Regions from separate parts of the Homo sapiens genome. Here regions 2 and 3 are each linked to region 1. Evidence: fine-mapped expression QTL. A gene starts in region 1. Each other region holds a variant in brackets. All regions are shown on one strand. Distances are between the middles of the regions.

Evidence for each region.
Region 2: its variant is fine-mapped to the expression of WWP2 in whole blood (INTERVAL, PIP 0.95).
Region 3: its variant is fine-mapped to the expression of WWP2 in whole blood (TOPMed, PIP above 0.99).

Annotation. Positions count from the first base shown.
Region 1 is chr16:69,758,264-69,766,442 of GRCh38, reverse strand. It overlaps WWP2 (WW domain containing E3 ubiquitin protein ligase 2), which reads right to left and starts at 4,111. Exons shown (of 24, transcript NM_001270454.2): 1 at 4,052-4,111. RefSeq lists silencers at 3,635-3,684, 3,705-3,864, 3,885-4,024 and an enhancer at 3,728-4,306.
Region 2 is chr16:69,847,015-69,855,193 of GRCh38, reverse strand. The region is part of intron 6 of WWP2 (WW domain containing E3 ubiquitin protein ligase 2); the gene reads right to left. Among named protein-coding and RNA genes, the nearest start is that of MIR140, 82 kb to the left of the region's middle. The variant G/TG (reference allele first, on the strand shown) is at 4,808.
Region 3 is chr16:69,866,001-69,874,179 of GRCh38, reverse strand. It overlaps WWP2 (WW domain containing E3 ubiquitin protein ligase 2), which reads right to left. Exons shown (of 24, transcript NM_001270454.2): 7 at 2,249-2,376. Among named protein-coding and RNA genes, the nearest start is that of MIR140, 63 kb to the left of the region's middle. The variant T/C (reference allele first, on the strand shown) is at 4,605.

The sequences.
Region 1 (8,179 bases):
AGGGTTTGAGTTGGGCAGTGGAGTGGACAGGATCCACCCTGCCTTTTAACAGACTTGCCCTGGGTCCTGTGTGGAGAAAGTGAAGGCCAGCCAGGGTGGAAGAGGGAGACAAGTTAGGAGGCTGTTGCCATCATCCAGGGGAAAGATGCATCCAGGGTGTACTCTGAAGTACAGCCAGTAGGCTTTGTGGACGAGCTGAGTTGGATGTGGGGTGTGAGAGGAAGAGACGAGTCAAGGGTGACTCCAAGGTCTTTGGCTTGAACAACTGGAGGAATGGAGTTGTCATTAACTGAGATGGGGAAGGCTGTCTGAGGGGCAGGTGTAGGGCTCAATTTTGTTGATGTTGATTATAAAATGCCTGATAGGAATCCACGTGAAGATATTGTGGGCAATTAGATCTAGAAGTCTCGAGACAGGCCTAGGCTAGACACACATATGGAAGCTGTTAGCATGTGGATAGTATTTAGAGTTAAGAGACTGAGCCAGGTGCAATGGTTCATGCCTGTAATCTCAGCACTTTCGGAGGCTGAGGCAGGAGGATGTCTTGAGGCCAAGTGTTCAAGACCAGCCTGGGCAAAAGTGAGAACCCCCGCCCCCAACTCCCCATCTCTCCAAAAGCAAGACGGAGTCTCACTTCATCACCTAGGCTGGAGTGCAGTGGCGCGATCTTGGTTCACTGCAACCTCCATCTCCCGAGCTCAAGCAATTCTCGTGCCTCAGCCTCCCGAGTAGCTGGAATTAGACACATGTGCCAACAAGCCCAGCTAATTTTTGTATTTTGGGTAGAGATGGGGTTTCACCATGTTGGTCAGGCTGGTCTTGAAATCCTGACCTCAAGTGATCCGCCCGTCTCAGCCTCCAAAAGTTCTGGAATTACAGGCGTGAGCCACCGCACCTGGCCAGGATCCTATTTAAACTGCAACCTACATCCCTCTTCCCTGCTTTATTACAACATAATACATATTATACTTAGTTATCAATGTGCCCTTCTCTAATAAAATTGAAGATCCACAAGGGTGGGGATCCTTACCTTTCTTGTACTGCTATATTCCTGGCATTCAGAACAGGTTTGTCCAATAGAAATAAGATGGGAGCCACAAGTGCAAGCCACATTTATAATTTTTTATTTTTCTAGGAAATACATTTTAAAAAGAAAAAAGTGCTGGGTTTCAAGTCAAGGTTAAGTGGGAAAAAAAAAGACAAAAAGGTGAAACTTTTTTTCTTTTTCTTTTTCTTTTTTTTGAGACAGGGTCTCACTCTGTCACCTAGGCTAGAGTGCAATGAGTGGCACGATCACAACTCACTGCAGCCTCCACCTCCCCAGGCTTGGGTGATCCTCCCACCTCAGCCTCCTGAGTAGCCAGGCGGGCGCCACTGCACCTGGCTAATTTTTGTATTTTTTGTAGAGACAGGGTTTCACCATGTTGCCCAGGCTGGTCCCAAATTCCTGGGCTCAAGCAATCTATCCACCTTGACCTCCCAAAGTGCTGGAATTATAGGCATGAGCCACCATGTCTGACCAACTATTTATAATTACGTTGTATTTAACCCAATAAATCCAAAATGTTATCATACATGTTTATACATTATATGATCGTTTACTATAACATAAAAAGTATCAATGAGACATTTTACTTTTCTTCATGCTAAGTCTTCAAAATCCAGAATGTATTTTATGCTCACAGCATAGCTCCAGTGCTCAGCAGCCCCATGTGGCTAGTGTACACCATACTGGACTCTACAACAATGCCTGGCAAAGACAGAGTGGGTACTTATAAATATTCACTGAATGAAAGAATGTTTTCCCAGGAAGAGGAAGCTATGGTAGAGTACAGCGTTTTCTAAACTTCATTTACTCACATTCTACATTCACAACTTTTTCTGTGTGATCTTTTTCCTTAAAATGTTACACTTTTTATTCCTGAAAAATTATGTAAAAATAAAACTTTCAGTTGGGCATGGTGACTTACACCTGTAATTGCAACACTTTGAGAGGCCGAGGTGGGAGGATCGCTTGAGCCCCGGAGTTTGAAAACAGCCCGGGCAACATAGCAAAACCCCTGTCTCTACAAAAATTAGCCAGGCGAGGTGGCACCCACCTGTAGTCCCAGCTGTTTGGGAGGCAGACATGGGAGGATCACCCGAGCCCAGGCAGGTCAAGGTTACAGTGAGCCGTGATTGTGCCACTGCACTCCAGCCTGGGCAACAGAGTAAGATCCTGTCTCAAAATAAAATAAAAATAAAATTTTCTATTGTGTCAATAAATGAAAAAGAATGGATCTAAGGATTAAGGGTCTGGGCTTGAGTCCCTACTCATTTACTAGCTCTGAAATCTAAAGTAAGGACTTCATTAAGCCTCAGTCTCTTCATGTGATATAGGGACAATACTGACCATCCCAATTTCAAAGGGAAGGTTAAGTGAGATGTTGGTATACGCTCTTTGTAAATGGGAAAGTAATCATGAAGTGAAAGAGACTGAGAAGCCAATCCAAGCCTTTCTCTCGAGCCTGTTTTCATATGGACCAATGACACAGATAATCACAAGCTTCTCTGACAAGAAAAAGAGTAGAAGACTTGGGTTCAAATCCTTTGTCACCACTTACGCCGGTGTGACTTTTAGAAATGCATTTATTCACCAAATATTTATCAAGTGCTCACAACATGCCAGGCACTAGGCTAGCAGCCAAATAAAATATGAAACCTGCCCTTGAAGGATTTGCAATCTAGCAGGAAGAGGCCAGCAAACAAGAAAGAGCAATAAATTGTTTTAAAAAATCAAGTCGTCTCTCGTAAGTCTGTTTGTTCCCTGTGAAATGAGAATACATCTTCCCAACCTCACTCATAGGCGCTGCTGCAAAAACTAATTTTTAAATGTTTGTCAAATAACTCCAAAAACTTGAACTCATAATACATTAGGAAAGTACTTTTTCCTACTTGTAACCCAAAACGATGCTGGCTGCTGTGAATGTCCAGTTTGAACATTCGTTCCAGTTACACTGCACTCATGAAACTCCTTTTGCTTCTGCAAATTTTAGTAAACATGAGAAACAGGAAGATGAACAGGCTTTAACACAAGTATTCAATCTCAAAATCATGATCCAGGTCACAGTTCTAAGGAACATAACACAGACCTCTCAGGCACCCTACCTAGTTACAGTTCGTCAAGATAAGCAGTCACAAGATAAGCTAAGGGAAACTGAATAATTTAAACGGAAGAAAGAGAAAAGTCATAAAGCAGTCTAGGTAGACACTTCTCTGTCCAAGATTTCAGCAGTCACTATGTTGCTGAGGTAACGCTGGGCTAGGTCAACAGTGTAAGCTAAAAGCCATTTTACAGGCAAAGTGCCCACACTTATTTTTTTAATTTATTTTCTTTTTTTGTTTTTTAAAGCCTCGATGATGGCCCGTTCAGGGAAAATCTCAAAGAAAAATGAGCTGAAGGGCTAGGCTCCCAAGAAGTGGAAACCCTACCCACGCAGGACTAAGTGGGCGCGAGGGAAGCAAGACGATCAAGATTCTGTGATCCCTCCTGAAGTTTAAAAACTGAATGGGACCGTCATCAAAGTCTCGGGTAACAATCATTTCCAAACAGGAAGGAAGGGAGAGACTCTCAGAGGGGGTCCAGGCAGCATCTTTTTCCCTCTGGCTCCACGCCATAAACCCATTTTCAGGCACCCCCTTCCAGCTCAGTTCCAAGTCGCCCCTTCCCCTGGTCCCGATCCCTCCACAAAGATCGCTCCTCTCCATGCCTGGGAACCTAAGCTCCTCTCCCCTTCCGGGAGGACTCGCTCCAGCTGCACCCTTGGCGGCCGGGGCACCCATTTCGGAGCAACCCCCGCGCGGGCCGCGGCGCGCCCACCCCACTCGGGCGGGAGCCGGGACACCCCTCCTCGGAGGCCGGAACCGCCGCGCCAGGCCCCTCCCACAGGAAGCCGCCGCCCCCCGACGCCCGGGCCGCGCCGCCCCCGGCCCACCCCGCGCCGCCCGCCGCCCCCGGCCCGCCCCGTGCAGGCAGCCAGCCCACCGCGCCCCCCGCGCCAGCGCTCGCTACCTGCCGTGGCCACAGAAGCGGCGCCGAACTCCTCTCCTACTTCCGCCTTCCACCGCCCGCACTCGGGCCGGGTCACGTGACCGCGCGCGGTCACCTGACCCGGAAGAGGCTGGCCAGGCTCGCAGGTGCGGGCCACCTAGGCCTGGCCTGGGCACCTCTGGCCTCGAGGAGGCCTTTTTATCGTCTCTGTAGTTGAAAGTGGAAGGGTTTCTGCTCACCGGATGGTCCCAGGCAATCAAATAAATTGAGGGCTCACTGAATGCCACCTACTCTGCCCATCAACCTTATAGAGGCAGGGACAGGTACTAGCCCCATTTTACAGGTGAAACGAGACCTTCAGACTGTTAAGTCAGCAAATACTTAATTGAGCTCCTTTAGTAGGGTTGCCAGATAAAGTACAGGACACCCACTTAAATTTGAATTTCAGATAAACAACAGTGTAATATGTATGTCCCAAATACAGAATGGGACATATTTATACTAAAAAAAGTATTTTTTGATTATCTGAAGATCAAATTGAATTGAGTATCTGTATTTCTATTTCCTGGCAACCTTATGCCTATTATGTGCCAGGCACTGTTCTAAGATCCAGGACCACAAACATCTCAGCCTTTGTGGGGCATCTGTCCTTGTGACATGAAGCAAAAGTACAAAAGCTTAAAAACTCCTGCTTGGCTCCATAAAAAGCCCCTCCACACTAATCCAATCGCATTCCCTTAATCTACAACTACAGGGCACAGAGAACTTAATGAATTATAATCCAGGTAGGTAGGTAGGTAGGTAGGTGGATAGATAGATGATATTTTTTTTTTTTTTTTTGAGATGGAGCCTCGCTCTGTCGCCCAGGCTGGAGTGCAGTGGTGCAGTCTCAGCTGACTGCAACCTCCGTCTCGCCGGTTCATGCAATTCTCCTGCCTCAGCCTCCCGAGTAGCTGGGATTACAGGCGTGCACCACCACGCCTGGCTAATTTTTGCATTTTTAGTAGAGACAGGGTTCCTCCATGTTGACCAGTCTGGTCTCGAACACCTGACTTCAAATGATCCGCCCACCTTGGCCTCCCAAAGTGCTGGGATTACAGGCATGAACCACCGCACCTGGCAGAGAAATATTTTTTTTAAGAGATGGGTCTGGATAGGTTGCTTTGGCTGGGCTCGAACTCCCAGCTTCAAGCAGTCCTCTTGCTTCAGCCTCCCAAGTAGCTGAGACTACAGGCGAATGCCACTGTGCCTGCCCAATAACTTTATTTATTTATTTATTTATTTATTTATTTGCTTGCTTGAGACAGAGTTTCACTCTTGTAGCCCAGGCAGGAGTGCAGTGGCTCAATCTTGGCTCACTGCAACCTCTGCCTCCCAGGTTCAAGCAATTCTCCTTCCTCAGCCTCCTGAGTAGCTGGGACTACAGGCACCCACCACCATGCCTGGCTAATTTTTGTATTTTTAATAGAGATGGGGTTTCACCATGTTGGCCAGGCTGGTCTCAAACTCCTAACCTCAGATGATCCACCTGCCTTGGCCTCCCAAAGTGCTCAGATTATAGGCGTGAGCCAATGCGCCCGGCCTCCAAGAACATTTTAAATAGACATTCTTGACTGATGTTCTGGACAAGTTGAATGAAGGCTCAGTTTAATCACCATTGATTAAAATTAATACTAATGACGTAATTAGCCTCAAAGACTTGTACTAATCTGTTATTTTTGGGTCTTCGAATTGGGATGGATTCTATCATGCATACAAATTAAATTGGCTGGTGGGGCGTGGAGGCTCACGCCTGTAATCCCAGCACTTTGGGAGGCAGAGGCAGGTGGATTACCTGAGGTCGGGAGTTCGAAACCCACTTGGCCAACCTGGTGAAACCCCATCTCTACTAAAACTACAAAAAAAAAAAAAAAAAAGATTCGCCGGGCATGGTCCGGGTGCGGGTAATCCCAGGTACTCCAGAACCTGAGGCAGGAGAATTGCTTGAACCCGGGAGGCGGAGGTGGCAGTGAGCCATGATAACGCCTCTGCACTCCAGCCTGGGCGACAGAGTGAGACTCTGTATCTAAATAAATAAATAGGTTGAACACTTAGTCTCTACTTTTTGTAGTACCACTCCAAATCCAAGAGATTAACTTTCAAGGAGATACAGTCCTGTCTTTGTACATTAAACCCTATATTAGTCTCATTTATAAAACTACTATAACTAAAACTTCTCCAGTTCCATTGATGGCAGTTTTACTAATTCTGTTCTAGATAAATTAGAGACTATTTCCTTGACTTACTAGCATTTGTTGGTTTCGGTTTGTTTTCTTCTTTCATATTTCATTTTTTATCTTTTGTTGCTTTTTTTTAACAACCCTGCAGAAAAGATTTAGTGGCATCTGAGTAAGTGTTCACCAAAGGGGAGAAGGGACAAGCAAAGAGCACACACTGCACATTAAAAGAATAAAATCTGACAGGGTGCGGTGGCTGGCACCTGTAATCCCAGTACTTTGGGAGGCCAAGGCGGGCAGATCAGACTGTCAGGGGCTCGAGATCAGACTGGGCAACATGGTGAAAACCCATCTCTACAAAAAATACAAATATTAGCTGGGCATGGTGGCACACACCCGTAGTCCCAGCTAATCAGGAGCCTGAGGCTTGAGAATCGCTTGAACCTGGGAGGCGGAGGTTGCAGTGAGCCAAGATTGCACACTGGACTCCAGCCTGGATGACAGGGTGAGACTCTGTCTCAAAAAAAAAAAATTGATATGATAAACTAGAAAATGAGAAATAGCCTCCAGCCATACTCTGTTACGGCAGGTAGCACAGGCACGTTCTAGATAATGAAGAGACTGAGTGGTGAGAAAGGTTGAGCCAGGTGCAATGGCTCACGCCTGTAATTCTAGCACTTTGGGAGGCCAAGGCAGGTGGATCACCGTACATCAGGAGTTCGAGACCATCTGGCCAATATGGTGAAACCCCATCTGTACTAAAAATACAAAAATTAGCCAGGCGTGGTGGCGGGCACCCATAATCTCAGCTACACAGGAGGCTGAGGCAGGAGAATTGTTGAACCTGGGAGGCAGAGGTGGCAGTGAGCTGAGATCGCACCACTGTGCTCCAGCCTGGGCGACGAGAGCAAAACTCAGTCCCCTTCCCGCCACCCCAAAAAAAGAGAAAGACTGAATTTGGGTAATTGCTGAAAGGCAATATTCAGTAGCACTGAAGGATTTTTGGGGTAGGACAGATAAATGACAATTGAGGAATCCAGCTGGCGTGAAGACTTCATGAAGAAAGTTTGCATGAAGACCCAAGTCGACATTCAGCAAAATTCACCGGATCTTATAATCATAAAATTTCAGATTTGCAAGGAAACGTAGAAGTCACTAAATACACCTTCTGTTCAATTCAGCAAGGAATTATTTGCTACCAAATTATGTGTGTTGCTTAGGGAGGTGGGGTGAGACTATTAAGACAAATTAGACAGACTCTGGCCCCACGTTGCTCAAAATGAAGTGAAGGCACATAAGCAGCAGTCAGTATAACAGAATGGATAATTAGGTGGCTCAGGGACAGCACCGTGTCTCACACCTGTAATCCCAGCACTTTGGGAGGCCAAGGCTAAAGGACTGCTTGAACCTGGGAGTTTCAGACCAGCCTGGGCAACATGATGAGACTCTCATCTCTACAAAAGTAAAAATGAAAAAACTAGCTGGGCATGGTGGTGTGGGCCTGTGGTGCCAGCTACTCGAGAGGCTGAGGTAGGAGGCTCACTTGAGCCTGGGAGTTCAAGGTTGCAGTGAACTATGATCATGCCACTGCACACCAGCCTGGGCAACAGAGAGAGACCGTGTCTCAAAAAAAAAAAAAAGAAAGAAAGAAAGAAAGAGAGAGAGAGAAAAGGAAAGGAAAGAAAAAAGAAGAGAAGAGAGAAAAAAGTGGCTCTGAATCAGTTTGTCTGGGTGTTACGTTATTTTCACCACTTACTGACCATGTCAGCTACACCTAGTGGCTTTAGTTAGCTATCCCTTGTCTGTAAAACAGTACCTATCTTGGCCGGGCGCGGTGGCTCACGCCTGTAATCCCAGCACTTTGGGAGGCCGAGGCGGGTGGACCACGAGGTCAGGAGATCGAGACCATCCTGGCTAATACGGTGAAATCCTG
Region 2 (8,179 bases), 89 kb before region 1:
GATTTTAGTTCTGTTACTATTTTTATCTAAAACAAAATGAAAAGCCGGCTGGGGCTCAGCGGCTCATGCCTGTAATCCCAGCACTTTGGAAGGCCAAGGCTGGTGGATCGCTTGAGTTCAGAGTTCAAGACCAGCCTGGGGAGACCTTATCTCTACAAAAAATTTTAAAAATTAGCCTACTGTGGTGGTGCACACCTGTAGTCCCAGCTATTTGGGAGGCTGAGGCAAGAGGATCACTTGAGCCTTGGAGGTTGAGGCTGCAGTGGGCCTTGATTGCACCACTGTACTCTAGCCTGGATGACAGAACAAGACCCTGTCTCAAAATTTTAAAAAACAAAAAAGAGGCTAGGCGCGGTGGCCCACACTTGTAATCCCAGCACTTTGGGAGGCCAAGGCAGGTGGATCACCTGAGGTCAGGAGTTCGAGACCAGCATGACCAACTTGGCGAAACCTCGCCTCTACTAAAAATACAAAAATTATCCAGGCGTGGTGGCAGGTGCCTGTAGTCACAGCTACTCAGGAGGCTGAGGCATGAGAACTGCTTGAACCCAGAAGGCAGAGTTTGCAGTGAGCCAAGATCGTGCCACTGCACTCCAGCCTGGGCGACAGAGCAAGATTCCATCTCAAAAATAAATAAACTTAAAAAAAAAAAGAAAAGCCTACATACAGAATTGATTCAACGTTTGAAAGGAGTCATTCTATTTAGGCTATTTAAATGCCACCAGAAAGGCAGTCACTAAACCAAACCCCAAATCACCACCTCCACAGACCTTGGCACTTTAAAAGGAGCCATCCAGTTCCAACAGAATCCGAAAGGAAAAGTCGAACCTCATCTCACCAAACCACAGCCACAAACACCATGGCTGAAGCACCCCTCTTTCCTCGCCATCCACATCTGTCTAAAGCATTTGCAGCCAGTTCTGTTCTGGTCTTCCATCAGCACATGGTCAAGCTACCAAGCTCTCAAGACTAGAAAGTCATTTCTCCAACACCCATACTCTTTTTATTGGCTTCTCTCTAAACTTGTCCCCTTTCGATCACAATTTTCTAGGACCAAGAAGTAGTAGAATCCAGATACAGATCTGGTTCAAGTAGAACTAGCACTCACGTGCCCTGAATTGTGCCCTTATTGTGGCCCTGTGGTTCACTGTCAGGAATACGATGTTTCTCTCTGTGTCTCTTCAGTTAGGTTCTCATTCCTCCTCCTATGGGTGCACTTTCAGAGAAATGACTCTGCCCCAGAGCCAGGCAGTACCAATGTTCCATAAACCCTGCTGAACACCAAAGCCGACCACCATGGGAGATGTGGTTTTAAAGTGACATCTTCATTAGCTCCCCGCCTCTTGCGTCTCTTGTCTCCATGAATGACAGCACAGTAGAGGAATCTGGGAGTACCCCCCTCCCTCCTTACCCTTCACCTTGTCTCATTAGCCAGCCATGCAGTCCTGCTTAATTACACCTCCTAGGTATTTCTCTTGTCTCCTCTCTATTCGCTACTGCCCAAGGCTAGTCATCAATTGTAACCTCACCAGTTCCTGCAACAGTCCTCTTCGTCAGTCCCTGAGTCTGGTCTCAGCCCCACTGTATCAGACATTCCCACCCTCTTCTATCCCATATGCCCGCCCTGACGCACTGCAGGGCCTAGAAGACTTCCAGACCCTCCTGCAGATAGGCTCTGGGTGTGATTTAGGTTGCACCAATGAGAAGTTCTTGCAGAAAGGTTGGAAAGCAGAAGGAAGGCAGAAGCCATTTGTCCTGTGGTGGTGGTGACTGGCAGGGGCTCCAGCAGACACCATGCCTCATCGCCTGCACACCCACTTCAAATACATAAAGCGGTTGCAAGGGCACAGTAGTTTCTTGGCATGTGAACTGGAGCTGCAAGCCTGTGAGCCTGTAACCAAAGACCTCAGGGAGACCCCTCACTCCTATTGCATCAGCCCATCCAGTGACTTTTATAAGCATCTAATTCCCCATATTAAATCCTTTTCTGCTCAAAATACCTAGAGTGTTTTCTGTTTCCTGCAATGAACCCCAACTGATATAGCTCCGAATTCATCCATTAGACTACTTTCCTGAATAATTTACCGCAGAAATAGCCTTACCATTGCCTTGCTCAAAATCCACTGGTTCCCTGTCTCCAAAGAATAAAATCTACAGTCCTCAGTAAAACACAAAAGACCCTTTGTGAACTGCTCTTGCCTTCAAACCATCTCCTACAGCCAGGGACTGGCAAACTTTCTGCAAAGAGCCAAATCGTAAATCTTTTAGGTTTTGCTGACCATAAGATCTCTGTTCTAACTACTTAACATACCATCGTAGCATGAAAGTAGCCACAGACAATATGAAAATAAATGAGTATGGCCATATAAAAATAAAACTGTATTTCCAAAAACAGGTGGTAAAGAGAATGAGAAGACAAGCCGCAGACTGGGAGAAAATATTGGCAAAACATATATCTGATAAAGAACTGCTATCCAAAATATACAAAAAATGCTTAAAACTCAACAATAAGAACATGAACAACCAGATTTTTAAAATGGGCAAAGGACCTGAACAGACACCCTGCCAAAGAAGATATACAGATGGAATATAAGCATATGAAAAGACTCTCCATATCATAGGCCGGGCAAGGCAGCTCATGCCTGTAATCCCAGCACTTTGGGAGGCCGAGGTGGGCGGATCACCTGAGGTCAGGAGTTCGAGACCAACCTGGCCAACATGGTGAAACCCAGTTTCTACTTAAAATACAAAAAAATTAGCTGGGCGTGGTGGCAGGTGCCACCCAGCTACTCAGGAGGCTGAGGCAGGAGAATCACTTGAACCTAGGAGGTGGAGGGTGCAGTAAGCCGAGATCACACCATTGCACTCCAGCCTGGACAACAGAGTGAGGCTCTTTCTCAAAAAAAAAAAGAGACTCTCCACATCATATATCATCCAGGAAATGCAAATTAAAGTGAGATATCACTAGATACCCATTAGAATAGCCAAAATCCAGAAAATGGACTACATCAAACCTGGTGAAGATGTGGAGCAACAGGAACTCTCACTCACTGCTGGTGGCAATGCAAACTGGTGCAGCCGTTTTGGAAAACAGTTTAGCAGTTTCTTACAAAACTAAGCATACTTTTACCATATGACCCAGCAATCATGTTCCTTTGTATTTACCCAAGCAAGTTAAAAACTTTGTTTTGTTTTGTTTTGTTTTGTTTTAGCTGGAATCTCGCTGCTCTGTCGCCAGGCTGGAGTGCAGTGGCGTGATCTCAGCTCACTGCAAACTCCACCCCCCAGATTTAAGCTATTCTCCTGCCTCAGCCTCCCGAGTAGCTGGGACTCCAGGAGCGCACTACCACGCCCAGCTAATTTTTTTTTGTATTTTTACTAGAGATGGGGTTTCACTATGTTGGCCAGGATGGTCTGGATCTCTTGACCTTGCGATATGCCTGCCTCGGCCTCCCACAGTGCTAGGATTACAGGCATGAGCCACCGTTCCCGACCGAGTTGAAAACTTTTATCTGCACAGAAACCTGCACACTAATGTTTATGGCAGCTTTATTATTCATCATTGCCAAAACTTGGAAGCAACCAGTAAATGAATGAATAAACTGTGGAGGAGGAATGTAAAAGTGAATGGATAAACTGTGGTACATGCAGACAATGAAATATTATTCAGTACCCAAAATATCAAGCCATGAGAAGACGTGAAAGAAACGTAAATCCCAATTACTAAGTGAAAGAAGCCAATCTGACAAGGCTATATACTCTATGATCCAGCTATACGACATTCTGGAAATGGCAAAACTATGCAGACAATAAAATATCAGTGGTTACAATGGGCTGGGGACGGGAGGGAGAGATGAATAGATGAAGCACAGGGCAGTGAAACTACTCTGTATGACAGAGTAATGGTGGATACATGTGAGGGCCAAGGCACGTGGATCACTTGAGTCCAGGAGTTCAAGACCAGCCTGGCCAACATGGGGAAACCTCATCTCTACTAAAAATACAAAAAAAAAAAATTAGCTGGGCATGGTGGTGAATGCTTGTAATCCCAGCTACTCAGGAGGCTGAGGCATGAGACTCACTTGAACCTGGGAGGCAGAGGTTGCAGTAAGCTGAGATTGAGCCACTGCACTCCAGCCAGTGGAATGACAGAGCGAGACTCTGTCCAAAAAAAAAAAAAAAAAATTAAAGAGTGAAACCTAATATACATTTTGGACTTTGAGTGACAATGATGTGTCAATGCAGGCTCATCATTCTAACAAATGTACCACTCTGGTGGGGGATGTTGATAGTGGGGAAGAGAGTATATATGTTTGGGGGAACCTAAAAGTGCTCTAAAAAAAACACGGCAGATTTCACCCAGCAAAAACAAACAAACAAACAAGAACACCAACAAAAAAGCAGATGGCAGGCTGGATTCAGCCTGCAAACCCTAGTTTGCTACGCTATCATCCCTAATATCTTACATGTCAACATTTCTAAATGACTTTTATTTCCTCAAATACATCAAGTTCTCTTACTCCTCCTTGCCTTCACTCATGCTGTACCCTCTGCCTGCAGTGACATCCCTGAACCCCACTTCGTCGGTCTGGCAAACTCCTTCAAAATACTGCTCAAATGTGGGAGGTCTTCCCCAAATCTCCCAGGCATATCTAGGTAATGTCCCACTACATTCCTCTTGCATGTGTACATACCATCACCATGGATCCATCACACTAGACTCTAACTCATCCATGCATCTGTCTCCTACTAGAGACACTCCCTGATGTCAGGGACCCTGACTTTTCATCATTTTTTTTTTTTTTTT[G/TG]AGATGGAGTCTCAGTCTGTTGCCCAGGCTGGAGTGCAGTGGTGTGATCTCGGCTCACTGCAAGCTCCACCTCCTGGGTTCACACCATTCTCCTGCCTCAGCCTCCCGAGTAGCTGGGACTACAGGCGCACACCACCACGCCCGGCTAATTTTTTTGTATTTTTAGTAGGGACGGGGTTTCACCGTGTTAGCCAGGATGGTCTCAATCTCCTGACCTCATGATCTGCCCACCTTGGCCTCCCAAAGTGCTGGGATTACAGGCGTGAGCCACTGCGCCCGGCCGACTTTTCATCTTTTAATCACCACGACAGCTCAGAGCCTGGCATTCATGTATATCAAGTGAATATTGCCTTCAACGGCAGAGATTTGCCTTCCTTCCTCCTAGTTTATAACCAGCTTTCTGGCGCATGCCACATCTGGCATTATAAACATCTCTCTAGGCTCATACAGAGTAAATGCCAAATAAATATCTATGCAATAAATAAATGTATAATAAGGTACCATGTATCATTTTAATTGATGCAAAATAAACCAATGTATAAATGAGTGTGTAATTAATCTCCATGATTTTTTTTTTAAGAGACAGGGTCTCCCTATGTTGTCCAGGCTGGAGTGCAGTGGCACGATCATAACTCACTGCAGCCTCAAACTCCTGGCCTCAAGCGATCCTTCTGCCTCAGCCTCCCAAAGAGCTGGGACTCAGGCATACAGCCACCATGCCCAGCCATGATTACTTTTCAACGTCTGGCTTGGAGAATGCAGTGGGACCCTTGACCACTGTCTCAATCCTATTCCATATTTACCAACTGCTCAGAAGAAAGCCCTGCCTACAAGCAGGGACTTTGAGCAGGGACTATGTCTTAATTATAACTGAATGAATGAATGAATGAATGAATGAATGAATAAATAAATAAATAAATAACACTTATTCCATTGTCTTCCCCAGCAACAGAAATGAGGCAATACCCAGATTTTAAGCATAAGCTACTGCATGGGAGGACTTTCCTGCTGACAGGGCAACATCTCTAAATAACTGCAGTTCCCAATCAAGCAGCCTTTAGTCACCTCAGTGGAAGGAGGGGTGGCAACCGCCAGCCAACAATGACTGTGAGAATGGCCTAGTGCCCAAGGCTCAGCTCCTATCCACCCTCCACCCCTCCTCCCTGCTAGCTCTGCTTCCCAATTCTCCCCCGGCCCTCCCAGGACTTCCTGAAGTGTTCACAGTGGACTCACACCCGCCTGAGTTTATTTTTCTTTCCTTTCTGGGATAGGCTGTCTGCAGACACAGTTGATGATCTATTTAGAGCTCACCGGAGACGGTTAGGCTTTATAAGTCTCCGAGATTACAGATCTTTTAAATCTTCAGAGGCCGTTAATGCCAAGGCAAGGGAGCCAATAAATCTGATATGTTTTCATCAAAGCAGGACAAAAAAAGAAGAGTAAAGGAGTGAGAAAGAAAACTATCTAAGAGGCTCTGAAACTTTTCCATGTAAAAAAATCACTGGGAAAGACATCTTAAAATGCAGATTGTGACCAACACTGGCCACTACTGACAGCTGATGAGGGCCACAGGCAAATCCAAGGTCCCCAGGCCTACATGCACACACAAACACACACATACACACTCTCTCATGTGCGTTCACATGCATTCTTAAACAAAATAGCTTAAATACATATACACATAAGAAAGGAAAATAAATTGTTGAAGGCTCTATATATAGCTTCTTTTTTTTTTTTTTTTTTTTTTTTAGCAACAGCATCTAGCTCTGTTGCCCAGGCTGGATTGCAGGGTCTCCATCTTGGCTCACTATAGCCTCAAATTCCTGGGCTCAAGCAATCCTCCCAACTCAGCCTCCCAAAGTGCTGGGATTACAGGCATGAGCCACTGCACCTAGCTATTGACACTTCGCTTCTTGTTTGTTTGTTTTTTTTTTTTGAGATGGAGCTTTGCTCTTGTTGACCAGGCTGGAGTGCAATGGCACGATCTGGGCTCACCACAACCTCCACTTCCCAGATTCAAGTGATTCTCCTGCCTCAGCTCCCCACGTAGCCGGGATTACAGGCATGCGCCACCACGCCTGGCTAACTTTGTATTTTTAGAAGAGATGGGGTTTCTCCATGTTGGTCAGGCTGGTCTTGAACTTCCGACCTCAGGTGATCCACTCACCTCAGCCTCCCAAAGCGCTGGGATTACACCCAGCCTGCACGCTGAGCCACTGCGCCCAGCTGACAGCTTCTTAACTAAGATCCCTTATGTTAATCCCTATTAATGAAAAATTTTATGAATCAAAAAGCAAATTAAATGCATTCTTCTCATTTTGTTGTTGTTGTTCCATTTCCCTGTATGACTATGGAAATTTTACTGAGATTCTAGACAGAGGAGCCAGTTATTCAAGCCAGAGGAAGTCGTGAGGTGCTAGGAGGAGCAGCTCCACTCACAGACAGTCCTGTGGGCTTCATTCCAACTTGACTCCCTGCTATGGTTTGGATGCAGTTTGTCCCCACCAAAATTCATGTTGAAATTTGATTCCCAATGTGGCAGAGTTGGGAGGTGAGACCTAGTGGGAGGTGTTTAGGTCATGGGGGTGGATCCCTCATGAATAAATTAATGTCCTCTCATGGGGGTGAGTGAGTTCTCTCTGTTGGGAACCTGCAAGAATGGGTTATTAAAAAGAGCCTGGCCAGGCGCGGTGGCTCACAGCTGTAATCCCAGCACTTTAGGAGGCCGAGGCGGGCAGATCACCTGAGGTCGGGAGTTCGAGACCAGCCTGACCAACATGGAGAAACCCCATCTCTACTAAAAATACAAAATTAGTCAGGCATGGTGGCGCATGCCTGTAATCCCAGCTACTCAGGGGCTGAGGCAGGAGAATAGCTTGAACCTGGGAGAGAGAAGTTGCAGTGAGCTGAGTTTGCACCATTGCAGTCCACCCTGGGCAACAAGAGTGAAACTCCATCTCAAAAAAATTAAAAAAAAAAAAAATAAGAAAAATAAATAAAAAGGCAGGGCATGGTGGCTCATGCCTGTAATCCCAGCACTTTGGGAGGCCAAGGTGCGTGGATCGCCTGAAGTCAGGAGTTTGAGACCAGCCTGACCAATATGGTGAAACCCCGTCTCTACTAAAAATGCAAAAATTAGTCGGGCATGGTGGCATGTGCCTGTAGTCCCAGCTACTCTGGAGGATGAGACAGGAGAATTGCTTGAACCTGGGAGGCAGAGTTTATAGTGAGCCGAGATCGTGGCACTGCACTCCAGCCTGGGCGACAGAGCAAGACTCCATCTCAAATTTAAAAATAAATAAATAAATAATAAAAAGAGCCTGGCAGCAGGTGTAGGGCCTGGCACACACCTGTAGTCCCAGCTACTTGGGA
Region 3 (8,179 bases), 110 kb before region 1:
CATCACAGCAGAAAGGGGAGAGATGGACATCAAGCCCTCAGCACTGGAGTGGGCAGAAATCCCTAAAATACAACTGCCCTTCAGAGATGGATCTTAGGAACAGGTTTGGGCACTGAGAGACACCACCATGAAACACTTCCAAGGCAGTCCAAGGTTAGAGACGCCTGGCTTTTGAAGACACGGCTGGCACCTGCCTTGTCTGCTAGAACATAAGGTTCCTAGAGATAAGGACAACAAGTAATGGTACCTAAAAATAAATGTAGGGGAAATATAGCTCTATTGAAATGTCCAAGAGTGACTCAAGGACCATCACCAAAGAAAATCAATTCACCAATAGTTTTTATAGGAAAAGCAGAGGTAGCTGCGGGAAACCATGATCTCAATAACACAGGCATCTGGCAGAACAAAGCTGCTAGTAGCTCTGCCATGGCACCTGGGAATCAGCTGGTTCCTAAAAGCCAGTCCCCCATCCCCATTTGTAAACACTGCCCTCCTCCACAAGCCACTGAGTTTTCTAAGAGAAAAATGCTCGCAGAGCTGCCTATGGTTCTCTATACTATGGCTCACGGCCATCACTTTGCTGTCTCCTTCACACAGACAGGAAGGCCAGGCTCAGCTACCACCGGATGTTCCAGCACAAGGATACAGTGGGTGGCACAGGGGCGCCAGGCAGCTGAGACGGCAGCCCTGGGACTCCCCACCTGCAGCTCCTCCTCTTCCCCAAGGCTCAGGGTGGGCTAGTCAGTTCACTCAAGTCCTTCAGGCAGCTCCCAAACTTCAGGGAGGAGGTCAGGCCACTGCACTCACAGTGCGCTTTGTAGGACACAGACCACTCCATCTTGTGGTCCACAGAAGATGACAGGGTACCCAGGCAACAGCAGCAGCCACGGGGACTCTGAAGCCCCCATATGGTGCTGCCACAGAACTGAAGGGTATTGCAAAGGAACCCAAATCAATTTCTTCCACTCAGTAAGTTTGTCACAGAGGTCACTTAACAATGCCACAACAACACTTCCGTGAAAAGCCATGCTGCTCTGGGTCTCCTGGCCTTTACGCCACACCTCTGCTGTCACGAGCACTAGAAAACTATCTCAGCGTCACTTACCAAATTTCAACACCTGCATTCCTCTACCTACAATTCATCCAAGCGAAACATCTACATCCCAGCCCAACTGCCCGAAATGAAGACAAACTACCAAACGACCAGCAGTCTCTAAAGATTTGACAATCTTTGAGAAGTTTATAGAAATGAATGGGTTTGTTTTTTCTTTTTCCTTTTTGACTCTGTCCTGATGAGAGAGAGGGAGAGCAGGACGGAAAATGAGTTGTTTTGAAATAGGTCCTTCCCGTCTCACTTACGGGGAAGCAGAGCCAAGTGTGGGGAAGTTCCATGCGCACGTGGACGGCACTGTCTCCTCTCAAATGGGGCCCCCATCGGGATGGCCCCTGCACACCCCCAAGTAGTTACCTGGCTCTGCCCCAGTCAGCATCTCAACCCATTCACCAGTGGTGCCATCATCTGACTCAGCTCTTAGCAACAATACTTAGTCCTACATTTCCTTAGTCTGATAATTCCCTTACGTGAAGGAAATAAAAAATATGCTATGTATAAATGAGATATCCTCCCCAACATGAAATCCAATGCAGATAAGAAATGAATAGAAAGGCTAGGCGCAGTGGCTCACGTCTGTAATCCCAGAACTTTGGGAGGCCAAGACGGGCGATCACAAGGTCAGGAGATCAAGACCATCCTGGCTAACACGGTGAAACCCTGTCTCCACTAAAAACACAAAAAATTAGCCGGGCGTGGCAGTGGGCGCCTGTAGTCCCAGCTACTCAGGAGGCTGAGGCAGAAGAATGGCATGAACCCGGGAGGCGGAGCTTGCAGTGAGCCGAGATCACGCCACTGCACTCCAGCCTGGGCGACAGGGTGAGACTCCGTCTCAAAAAAAAAAAAAGACATTTCTTTTTATTGTCTTTATAGAAAGACAAGACTTTTTATTTCTGTGCAAATGAGTATTTTAGAAGAGCGCAGTCATATGGAGAATAACCTTGGCTGTACAGAATATGCCAGAGAGAGAAGAAGATGGGTCAGTAGAAAGACTGATGGATTCAAATCCAGTTTAGTCCTAGAGCCTTCTGACGCCCACCCTCTATTCTGACACAGTGGGCAGGATCCCGTGTCCACGTTAGAACGGGTGAGAGCCCACAGCTTCAGTGCAGGCTGGCGTGCGGTGCCATCACTCACCTGTGCCATTGGCCAAGCCACTGTGGCCTGAGTTCTTGACGGGCTGGCGGTGCCGGCTCCGAGCACCGGGGCTTTGCTCGCCGGTTGCTGGGGTTGTTCTGGCTGAAGCACCCGAATGTCTGTGCGTCCTGGGGGTTCAAAGTAGAAAGCAGACAGACATAAGTCACTGTGAAAAGGACAGAAGTGTTTCCTACCTAAGTCATCATATTCCCTTCTCCTGCCATTTATTGGAAACAAGACCTTTAATAGCCCCTCTAGTTTTGGACTAAACAGAAGCTGGTTCCAAGCAGAGAGACCCAGGGAAGTTTCCTTTTTGGTAAAAGCTCAGAAGGTAACTTTGTGTAAACTTTTCCACTTCAAGTAAACAAATCCAGAGTGAATTGCCCCTACATCTGAAATAATTGGCAAAATATCCTGTGACCATCACATTATTTTTATTGGGCTCAAATGTTACAAATAAACAAGAATCACTGGACAGGCTCAGATGAAATATTTCCCCCATTAGGCAAGAAGAGCTCAAAACTTATCCAAAGCAATTTTCTCTATAGCTAGAAAGATGATTCCCTTGGCAATAAAAGTCAAGGGGCATTAAACAACTTTTAGTCAATGCATATGTTGACACTTTTTGTTGTTGTCATTCACTTGTTTGTTTAGAGACAGGGTCACACTCTGCTGCCCAGGCTGGAGTGGCACGATCATAGCTCATTGCAGCCTCAAACTCTTGGGCTCAAGTGATCCTTCCACCTCAGCCTCCCCAGTAGCTGGACTATAGGCACACAGCACCACGCCTGGCTCATTTTTTTATTTTTGGGGAGATGGGGTCTTGCTATGTTGCCAAGGCTGGTCTCAAACTCCTGAGCTCAAACGATCCTCCCACCTCAGCCTCCCAAAGTGCTGGGATTACAAGTATGAGCCACTATGCCTGGCCTAGACATGTTTTATCTAGAAAAGATGACTCAACAATCCATCCAAGTAAATGAGAAGCAATGCAGAAATCACAAAGAAAAGTGTGGAATTTAGCAGCAGAAAACCTATCAGACATCTTCAGAGAACACAAGGCAACAGGCAGCATGTGCTCTCAAGTTCTTTTTGCAGCTTGACTTTGCCCACTCAGTGAAAATGTCTAAGCCTCCCTGTCCTTCGGTTCATCTGTTTCACCAAACGAGGCTCTTCTACTACTTAGTAAGCATCTACTACTTTGCAACTGTGAGATGTTTCAAATACCATCCAGTGAAGAAAAGATCACCCCTCTCCAGACAGAGAAACAGAGACCCAGAGACAATTTGTACCATGCAACATGGGGCGATAAAACTACTCTCAACAATAAAGGTGGCTGGGCACAGTGGCTCACGCCTGTTATCCTAACACTTTGGGAGGCCAAGGCGGGAGGATCACTTGAGCCCAGGAGTTTGAGACCAGCCTGGGCAACATAATGAGACCCTGCCTCTACAAAAAATAAACAAAACTAGCTGCACTACCGGTGCATGCCTGTAGTCCCAGCTACTCAAGAGGCTGAAGTAGGAGGATCATTTGAGCCCAGAAGGTAGAGGTTTCAGGGAGCCAAGATCACGTCACTGTATTCCAGCCTGGGTGACAGAGTGAGTGAGAGTGTCTCCAAAAAAAAAAAAAAAAAGGATAAATAAATAAAGGTAATAATAATGGCTACAGAAGTATATAATATTCACTGAACTCTAACATTATGTTCCAGGCACTGTGTGTGCTATGCATTTACATATATGTTCTCATTTAACATGGGAACCCTAAAGGTAGATTAATATTATTATCCCCGCTTTACAGATAAGCAAACAGACACAGAGAAGCTCTACAGAAAGTAAGCCAAATGATGCAAAGATTCATGTACAGGCAGTTTAATGTCAAGAGCCTAGGCTCTTAGGTCAGAAGATGGGACAGGAAGCCTGAACTCAAGCTAAATTCCTCTTGGGCTATTTTTTTGTTGGTCATTTGGACAATGGTGAAATTAAGAGCTATAATAGAAAGTTCCCCATTGGGAGGATCCACCTCCAGCAGAACGACCCTGCTGGGAGTCTTTGGTCCAGTGTGTTGAGGCAGTCAACAGGAAGCTCCTTGAGGGATATGAACCACCCAGACCAGCTACCTTCTCTAAAGTAAGAAACAGAATTTGACAAGATGAACATAAACCAAAATCTTAACCGTCATTATCTTTGGATATTGGGAATAAAGAAGCCCTTTTGTGCTCTTCTAGATTTTTCCAGCTTCCTTCATTGAGCTTGTATACTTGTGAGTAAGGAAAAAAACATGACTTTTTGGCTGGGTGCAGTGGCTCACACCTGTAATCCCAACGCTTTGGGAGGCTGAGATGGGACGGCACTTGAGC[T/C]CAAGAGTTTGAGACCAGCCTGGGCAACACAGGGAGACCTCATCTCTAGCAAAAAATTTAAAAAATTAGCCAGGTGTGGTGGCGTGCCCCTGTGGTCCCAGGTACTTGGGAGGCCAAGGCAGGAGGATCACTTCAGCCTGAGAGCGTGGCAAAAGAGTGAGACCTTGTTTAACAAAAAAAAAAAATTAAGTTTTTCTTGCCCCCAATCCCCAACAAAAAAAAAAAAGGAGAAAAAGGGAGAAACGTAGCAAACTCTGGAGTCCCTCATACCTAAACACTGCATGGCAATGGAGACAGAGTACGACTGAACTGTGGAAATACTCAATGTGGACTCTCTTTTTCCACCTTAACTTTTTCCCTGAGCTAATTTCATAAATCAAAAGCTGTTGGCCGCACACAGTGGCTCATGCCTGTAATCCCAGCACTTTGGGAGGCTGAGGCAGGTGGATCACCTGAGGTCAGGAGTTCGAGACCAGCCTGGCCAACATGGCGAAACCCCATCTCTACTAAAAATACAAAATTAGCCAGGCATGGTGGTGAGCGCTTATAATCCCAGCTACTTCAGAGGCTGAGGCAGGAGAATCACTTAGAACCCGGGAGGTGGAGGTCGCAGTGAGCCGAGATTGTACCACTGCACTCCAGCCTGGACAACACAGAGAGAGACTCTGTCTCAACAACAACAACAAAAAGCTGTCAACCACACCTCAGTCAAAGATGAATATTTCAAAGTTCCCACTTCATGGGAAGAAATGTTCACCTTAAGCATTTCACCACAGCTCCTCCTCAAAAGTGGAATGAGCACAAATGAGTTCCAAAGGGAAAGGCAGGCAGCCCTCAGCAAGCTGGTGTGTGTGTATGTGTGTATATCTGTGTGTGTATGTCTGTGTGTGTGTGTGTGTGTGTGTGTGTGTGTGCACATGTGTATGTGTTGAGGGCAGAGAGCTTGAGGGAGAAAATTGGTTAATAGAAGGTTTGTTTCAGCCAAGGATCCCTTTACTAGGACAAAAAGCCTCTCTGATTTGGAACTTGCAGCCCCCAGGAGCAAGCTGGACCCCTCAGGGAGCTGCAGGACCTGCAAAACGTGCACTGTCAACCCCTCAGACAGACATGTCCATGATCAACTCCAGCCCCGGGTTCCCTGTCCCTCTGCAGAGCAGCTGGGCATGACAATAGGGTGGGTCCCATTACTCCCTGGCCCTGCCCTCCCTTCCCAGAAAGGGCATGTGGTCAGCATGGAGAGAGAATACTTTCAGAAACACTTAACCACTAATGATAGCGGCTTACCCTGAATGATGGGCTGGGCAGGGCGGGATCAGCCCTAAGCTAGGGGCAGCTGGGATCACTTTGCATGAACTGCCACCTCCCTGCCCGTGGCCAGCCACCACCCCCCAACACACACACAAACACCACATCCCCTCTCCCCAGATTCTCCCCTTGCCCTAAATCTGGAGTTTCCAGTTTTTGGCTCTTGTGTTACCTTTAAAATAAGATGCTTAAAGGAAGAAAAGGCCTCAACATCTGAGGCAACTCCTCTCTTTGGCAGTTTCCTCTCTTGGAGAACTCACTCAACCCATAAAAGATGGGATCATATTGTAATGAAAAGCTGGCCCAGATGCTGAAACCACACATCGTGGGCCAAAATAGCACCCAGACAAATGCAGGGTGATGGCTGAGACAGCCAGGCTCGGCTCTGCCCATGACTTCAACCTTGGCCCAAGCCCCCTCACCATTTAGGGGGAGGGGACGAGTTATACAGCCCCCAGGGCAGGCAGAAAGCAGTTAGAATGGCAGTGCCAGTCAGGCCAAACTCCACAAATGGTTTTAAGTCAACTCATTACAGAAATTCAGCTCTCTTTGTAGCTCGCCCTTCTCAGGATGCGGTGTGTCCTCACTCAAGGTCCTCTCTCAAGAACTGAGGCCTCCTGAAGGCAGGCCAGCCACGACCAGGACCCACGCTCCCCAAAGTGGTTCTGACACAGATGAGGTCCCCAGGACAGAGCTGCTCACTGACACTTGGCATTTAAGCTTTGATGGTCAAAGCCCTGGCCTCCATCCTCAGCTACACCCTGACAGCCAGAGCCTTGGGTGTCATGGGACACCTGGCCTCGCCCTTCATGAGGGCCGCTGAAATGTACTCAATCATCCTTTTCTGAGTGTTAGGCCCCATTCTAGAGATAAAACAGAGTCCCTGACCTCAAGGAGCTTCCACCTTAGTGGAAATGCTGTGATTTGTAATTCTGCTGAGACACAAATTTCTATCATAGCACACAATGCTGCTTTGGGGAAGCCACCTGCTGGTGAGTGAGCCTGGCTGACCACGTGACAGTGTTACCTCAGTGCAGCCTCGCTGACCATTGTCACCTTTGCAACAGATCATGTGGAGTAATTAAACAAAACAGGATTTTGTTTGTTTGGTTTAAAAAAAAAAAAAAAAAGCCTTGGCCAGGTGTAGTGGCTCATGCCTATAATCCCAGCACTTCAGGAGGCTGAGGCAGGTGGATCACCTGAGGTCAGGAGTTCGAGACCAGCCTGGCCAACATGGCAAAACCCCAACTCTACTAAAAACAAAAATTAGCCAGGCCTGGTGGCGCATGTCTGTAGTCCCAGCTACTCAGGAGCCTGAGGCAGAAGAATCACTCGAATCCAGGAGGCGGAGGTTTCAGTGAGCCAAGATCGCACCACTGCATTCCAGCCTGGGCGACAGAGCGAGACTCCGTCTCAAAAATAAATAAATAAATAAATAAATAAATAAATAAATAAATAAATAAATAAATACGGAACTGAAAGCAAGACCTCAGGAGAGATATTTGCACACGCAGGTAGACAACAGCATTATTCACAATAGCCAAGAGGTAGAAGCAACCCATCCTCGACAAATGGATAAAGTATGGTATATGCATACATATGAGTATTACTCAACCTTAAAAAGGAAGGAAATTTTGACACAGGCTACCACATGGATGAACCTCGAGGACATTCTGCTAAGTGAAAGAAGCCCGTGGCAAAAAGACAAATCCTGTGTGGTTCCATTTAAATGTTACCTGGAGTAGCCAAACTAATTGAGTGAGAAAGCGGGATGATGGTTGCAAGGAGCTAGGGAGAGGGGGAAATAGGGAAGAAATTTGTAGAAAGCAAAAATATCTAATAAAATGAGGCTAGGTGCAGTGGCTCATGCCTGTAATCCCAGCACTTTGGGAGGCTGAGGCAGGAGGATCAATTGAGACTGGCCCAGGCAATGTAGGAAGACTCCGTCTCCATAAATAAATAAATAAATAAATAAATAAATAAATAAATAAATAAATAAAATGTGAAACCTTTTTTTAAAAAGCATTTTGTGGCTTCATCAAAAATTTTAAACTCCTGCTCTTCTAAAGACACTGTCCAAAAAAATGACAGGACAGTCCACAATACTGAGAAATAATAATAAAATCCTAAGCTCCTCAACCAACTGAATGGACCCCCTCTTGGCCAAGAAGACGCCAGAGAAACCTTAAAAACCTTAATTCCCAGCCATGATGAGATGCGAGGTCAGAGACACCTCGTTACACCCCCTCCTTCCCTAGCCACCATAAGTC